Regions from separate parts of the Homo sapiens genome. Here region 1 is linked to region 2. Evidence: fine-mapped expression QTL. A gene starts in region 2. The other region holds a variant in brackets. All regions are shown on one strand. Distances are from middle to middle.

Region 1 (2,899 bases), 180 kb before region 2:
ACCTTCTCCTGGATTCCTTGTATCTCTGACAATTCCTTCAAGGTCTCCTTGGCTGCTGCCTTACACCTGTGCTGCAAGGCCCCGGGTGATCTTCTACATCCTCATCACTTCACCTCTCTGCTGATGAAACACAAATCCTGGGCCACCCTCTGTGGCTGGGCAGGTTGGTCACTGCGCAACAGTGGCCAGGCCATGTACCCACATGGCTCACCAAGTTCCCATCTCTAGCTCAGAAGTCCTCTAAGTCACACCGTAGCCATCCAAATGCCAGCCATCTCTCCCAGAACGCACCCCAGGGAACCACACACTCAGCATGGACTCATTTTTCTTTCTTCCTAACCTGTTCCTCCCTTGAATACCCTATACTCACTGTATGGTCCCATCACACAAGGCAGAAAACCCGGAGGAATCCAGGCACTTCCAATCCCTGACCTGCCACAGCCACATCCTGTCTGACAGATTCTACCTCCTCCTCTCCAGCCACTGCTGTAGAATTGGTGTTTGACCTCATTATTTCTCCTCTCATTTAGTCTGTCGGCCTCCACGCTTACCGGCCTTAAAGCCTTCGCTCTGCCGCACAAGCAGCCTTGCCACAATATTCTGATCATGTCACGCCACCGCCTGGAAATTTCCCATGGATTCCCGCTGCCTACAGGATAAAGACCTGACTCCTCAAAATGCCCCAAGGCCCCTGACTCTCTCTCTCACCTCTTTCTTCCTTAACCAATGCCAAACACATCCGCTGTTTTTCTCTCCTGCCTGGTCTTTACTCATGCTGTAACCTTGGCTTGGAATGCCTGAGTCAAGGCCGCCCCCTCCCCCTGCAAAGACTTGGTTAATACCCAGATCAAGCTGACTACTCCCTTCCTCGAGCCCCCAGATTTCCACACGAATACCTGTAACACTTATAGGTTTATATGTGTCTCTGGCCCTATTAGAACTGCAGGTTCTGAGATCACAGACAGCATCTAGTTTGATTTTGGATCCCCAGAGCCCGGCTCAGTGGCTAGCACAGTGACAACCTCATCCATAAAATCCTAAATGGATGTGAAAATAAGCAGATTAGCCAGCCAGGTGCGGTGACTCACGCCTGTAATCCCAGCACTTTGGGAGGCTGAGGAGGGGTGGATCATGAGGTCAGGAAATCAAGACCATGCTGGCCAACATGGTGAAACCCTGTCTCTACTAAAAATACAAAAAAATAGCTGGGTGTGGTGGCGCATGTCTGTAATCCCAGCTACTCAGGAGGCTGAGGCAAGAGAATCGCTTGAACCGGGGAGGCGGAGGTTTCAGTGAGCCGAGATCGCACCACTGCACTCCAGTCTGGCGACAGAGCGAGACTCTGTCTCAAAAAAAAAAGAAAAGAAAAGAAAAGAAGCAGATTAGCCAAGGCAAGGTAATACAAATGTAAATTAGACTTTCAACTGGTTATAGGTGTAAAAATGGGGACAGAACACCTATTATCCCCAGGCACCCTCTGGAAAAGAAGAGATTAGGGATTAAGGGAGAAAGACTAGAAGCGTCTGGAAGAAAGGTAGACAGACAAAGAGGAAGAGAAGAATGGCCTGCTTAGAACCGGGACTGCACTTTCTGGGCACTGGGCTAGCATGTGGATGAAATGCCACCTGGAGAGCGACAGAGCAAAGATGCTTAAGCAAGGGGCCAGGCAGAAAGGCAGATAGATGCAGCTGGCCCAGCAGTGAGGAGGCACAAGCTCAGGTGCCTCCAGGAGTCAGGAGGTAAGA[A/T]AAACATGAGTGGCTATTCTCATAGATGCCTTCCTGCAGAAAGGCAGGCAGATTAAAATATATTTAAAACATCCCTACAGCCAAACAAAACAAGTCTAAGAAACGATTCCAGAGGAGAATCAGAAAGATAGCTGCTTTCCTTCTCCCTTAGACTGCCGAGCAAAATTATTAATATGATGTTCATGGGCTGCATGATCCCTACAAACACAGCTGACTCTTTGCCATCAGTAAGACACTCCCCATCCCCTAGCCCTTCCTTACCCTTCCCATCCTGCAGCTTCCTTCTCCAGGAAGCCTCCCCTGATTCCCCAGGGTCTCTCTGTGACATGCTCTTAAAACACCCTGGACTCCTGCTTCACAACCCTTTCCTGATTGATCAAATAGGTTTTCACTTAAAATCTGTTCCCACTATAAGAAGATAAACACTTGCAGGGCAGAGACTTTGTTCTTATTAAATCCCCAGTATCCCAAGACTCACTCTGCCTGGTACATATTTGAGGCTCAAACTATGTGTTGAAGGAATGATTCAATCAAACAGATAAACAATAAGTTAAGGTCGGGCACGGTGGCTCACGCCTGTAATGCCAGTACTTTGGGAGGCCGAGGCAGGCGGATCACAAGGCCAGGAGATCGAGACCACCCTGGCTAACACGGTGAAACCCCATCTCTACTAAAAATACAAAAAATTAGCCAGGTGTGGTGGCAGGCACCTGTAGTCCCAGATACTTGGGAGGCTGAGGCAGGAGAATGGCATGAACCCGGGAGGCGGAGCTTGCAGTGAGCCGAGATCGCGCCACTGCAGTCCAGCCTGGGTGAAAGAGCGAGACTCCGTCTCAAAAAAAAAAAAAAAAAAAGAGTTAAACAAGTAATGAATAAAACTGGCATATATCTAGAATGTAAGACCAAGGTAGGTGCTGGAATTATTTTTAGCATAAAAGAGGAGAGAGCCGAGCACGGTGGCTCATGCCTATAATCTCAGCACTTTGGGAAGCAGAAGTAGAAGCCAGAAGTTCGGGATCAGCCTAGGCAACATACTGAAACCCTGTCTCTACCAAAAAAAAAAAAAAAAAAAAAACAAAACAAAAAAAACTGTTTTTAGGCATAGTGTAATCCCAACACTGTGGAAGGTCAAGGCCAGTAGATTACTTGAGGCC
Region 2 (2,899 bases):
CCATTGAAGGTAACTGTTAATTTAGTCTTTACAAGAATCCTGGGGGCAGGCGGGCTTCTAGTAAAGGGGATGTCCTGGAAGGTCACCCCCCCACACACAAAGGACTTTAGAAACTTCGGGTCTCACTCAGGCTGTGACTGCGAGCTCAGTGATTAGAGGACAGCCTGTCACATAGACAATAAACAGCCAGCCGCCTTGCCTCAGCAGGTCCTGTGCAGCCCTGGGGCCAGGCCAGAACCCCAGGAACAAGCCACTTTCGGGTTCTGAGCCTTAGCCTCGGGGAGCTGGACCAGGGGAGCAGGCAGTGGCGGGGGGTGCTACGGCACCCCAGGATCAAGCCTGCTGAGGGGGCTCGGGCTGGTGGCCAGCAGGCTCGGCTGACCAGCAAGTGGGTGGTCCCGAGGCGGCCAGGCAGCCTGACCCAAGGCAGCACGACCGTCCACGGGTCATCAGGCTCTAGACTCCGGGGTGGAGACGCGGGGCTGCGGGACCGAGTCGGTGCCACTTTCTCGCACCCCTGATCCTCCGTGCCTCTTCCCAAGACCGCCAGACCCTTCACCGGCCCCTGCCACTGCCGGGAACGCTCCCGCCTGCTCCTTAACTCACACAGGCAACAAGTTCTCGCTTCCTCAGAGCAGCCACGGTGTGCTCCGGAGGCCCGGCGCAAGGTGGAAGCTCCCCGCGAGTCCGCGTTGCCCACGCCCCGAGGGGCGCCCGCTGCCGTCGCTGCCCCCCAGGAGCGTGGAGCTACAGGTAGCGCCGGCAAGGGCTGCCCCCCGGGGCGCCCCTCCGACCGGGACGCTGCGGCATCCCCGGAACGGGCAACAGGTACGCGAGCGCACCGAGGACCGCAGCCCCGGCTCCTACAGCCCCGGCCCTCGCCCCTTACCTCCAGCAACTGCACGTAGCTCGCCGGGAACCAGCCACGGAGCCCGTCCTCCTTCTCGCCTTCCCACCAGCCGCCGTCCGGGACCTGCAGCAGCGTGATCAGCTCGCCCGCGGCGAAGCGCAGCCCCTGGCCGTGCCGCTCCCCGGAGAAGGGGTACAGGGTCCGGCAGCGAGCGCCGGACATGGCCTTGGCGCCCGGGTTCACAGCGCAGCCTGCATTCCCGCCGAGCCCCACGGGCTGGGCAGCGGCTCCGCGGGGTCCCAGGCGCCCGGCGCTCCGGGCTCCCGCGCTCTGGGCGCGCGCCGTCTCTGGGGTGCGCGGGGGTCCTCAGGCAGGCGGGGGACGCGCGCTCCGCGCCGGGAAGCAGAGACTCGTTGGCTTCGCAGAGCGAGCGGCGACGCCCCCGGGCCGGGCAGCTCGCGGATCCTAGCTCTGGGCTGGGGGGCGGGGCTCAGGGGGAGGAGACCCAGGCGCCGCGGGCTCCGGAGACAACTTCCCGGGAACGCGGAACGCGGGCTGCCGCCGCGAGGGCTGGCCGGGGCCGGGGCCGGGACCGGGGCCGGGGCCGCCCTGGCGCGCGGAAATGCGCAGCTCCCCCGGGAGGTGGGACCCGGAGCATCCCCCGCGGCAGGACTCCGCGGCGGGCGGCCGTGGAGAGGAGCTGGCGGCCGGGTGGCCGGGCGGGGGTTAGCTCACTGGCGAGGGGGCGGGCCGGGGCGGGGCCAGGGCGGCCACGCCCGCGGAGGGCTGCGCGCTCCCTCGCAGAGGGGCCTGTCACTGGGGAGAGGGGCTCCCACTCGCGCCCCCACCGCCGGGGACCGCGGGAATGGAAACGCCCCTCTGTTCTGTGCCTGCTTTGTAGGCCTGGCGGCCCGTGGCGTGCGGGCGGCTTCTTCGAGGTGTCTGCGAGGGATCGTTTGTGGTTGTCATTGTAGTGGTTGAACCTGGGGTTGAACTTGTCTCACCGGAAACTGAACAATGGGTGAAAGACAGGTTTGAAGCCTGGCGCCTGAGCCCAGCAGCCTGGTGGCAGCGTGGCACGCTGGAGGGACGGAATGGAGAGAAGACGGGGTCGGAGTTGATAGAATTGGAAACAGTCGATGGGGATAAATGGAGGAAAGGCGAACGGTGAGAGGAACAGCACCAATGCTTTTACTTGCAGAGGGAAGGCCGGCCCAGGGTACCAGCCCTCCCGAAATCGAGATGGGTTGGCTAAAGAGTCTACACTCATGTAGTCAGTCAACAAACATTACCAGGAGGCTGCCATGTTCCATGCGATGTGCCAGGTACTACAAACATCATTTGGGCCAGTCCCTGCTCTCCAGGGACCAGTGAACCTGAGTGCTGCAGAATGTTGACCTTGAACTGACCGTACAGAAGTAAAAGAAAGCTTGGTTTCTTTGCTAGTCTACTCCATAAAAAATTTTAAAGAAATAAAATAAAGTACATTTTTTAGCCTGTAAATAGCTGGACTCGGCCAGGCGCGGTGGCTCACGCCTGTAATCCCAGCACTTTGGGAGGCTGAGGCGAATGGCTCACTTGAGGTCAGGAGTTCAAGACCAGCCTGGCCAACAAGGTGAAACCCCATCTCCACTAAAAATACAAAAATTAGCCGGGCGTGGTGGCGGGTGCCTGTAATCCCAGCTACTCAGGAGGCTGAGGCAGGAGAATGGCTTGAACCCGGGAGGTGGAAGTTGCAGTGGGCGGAGATCATACCACTGCATTCCAGCCTGGGTAACAAGGGTGAAACTCCGTCTCAAAAAAAAAAAAAGCTGGACCCTTTAATACGCCTGTATACCTCTGTCTACTCCTTCCCCCCTCCCCCAGTCACCTTCTGTGGCTCCCTATTGCCTTTTAAATTTGGTACAAACTTCTCTGCCTGTACATTTCAGGCCCTCCACAACGCCTCCTCTAGCTTCACCTCTTACTATGACTGCCTAGATATCCATTACAAAACCAGTCAGGCCGGGCTCCAAGAGCCTGAAGATCTTGCGCACCTGTCTATGCTTT

Evidence for each region.
Region 1: its variant is fine-mapped to the expression of GAS7 in whole blood (TOPMed, PIP 0.92).

Annotation. Positions count from the first base shown.
Region 1 is chr17:10,013,805-10,016,703 of GRCh38, forward strand. All of the region lies in intron 2 of GAS7 (growth arrest specific 7), which reads right to left. Among named protein-coding and RNA genes, the nearest start is that of RCVRN, 110 kb to the left of the region's middle. The variant A/T (reference allele first, on the strand shown) is at 1,746.
Region 2 is chr17:10,197,319-10,200,217 of GRCh38, forward strand. It overlaps GAS7 (growth arrest specific 7), which reads right to left and starts at 1,288. Exons shown (of 14, transcript NM_201433.2): 1 at 890-1,288. The coding sequence starts at 1,072.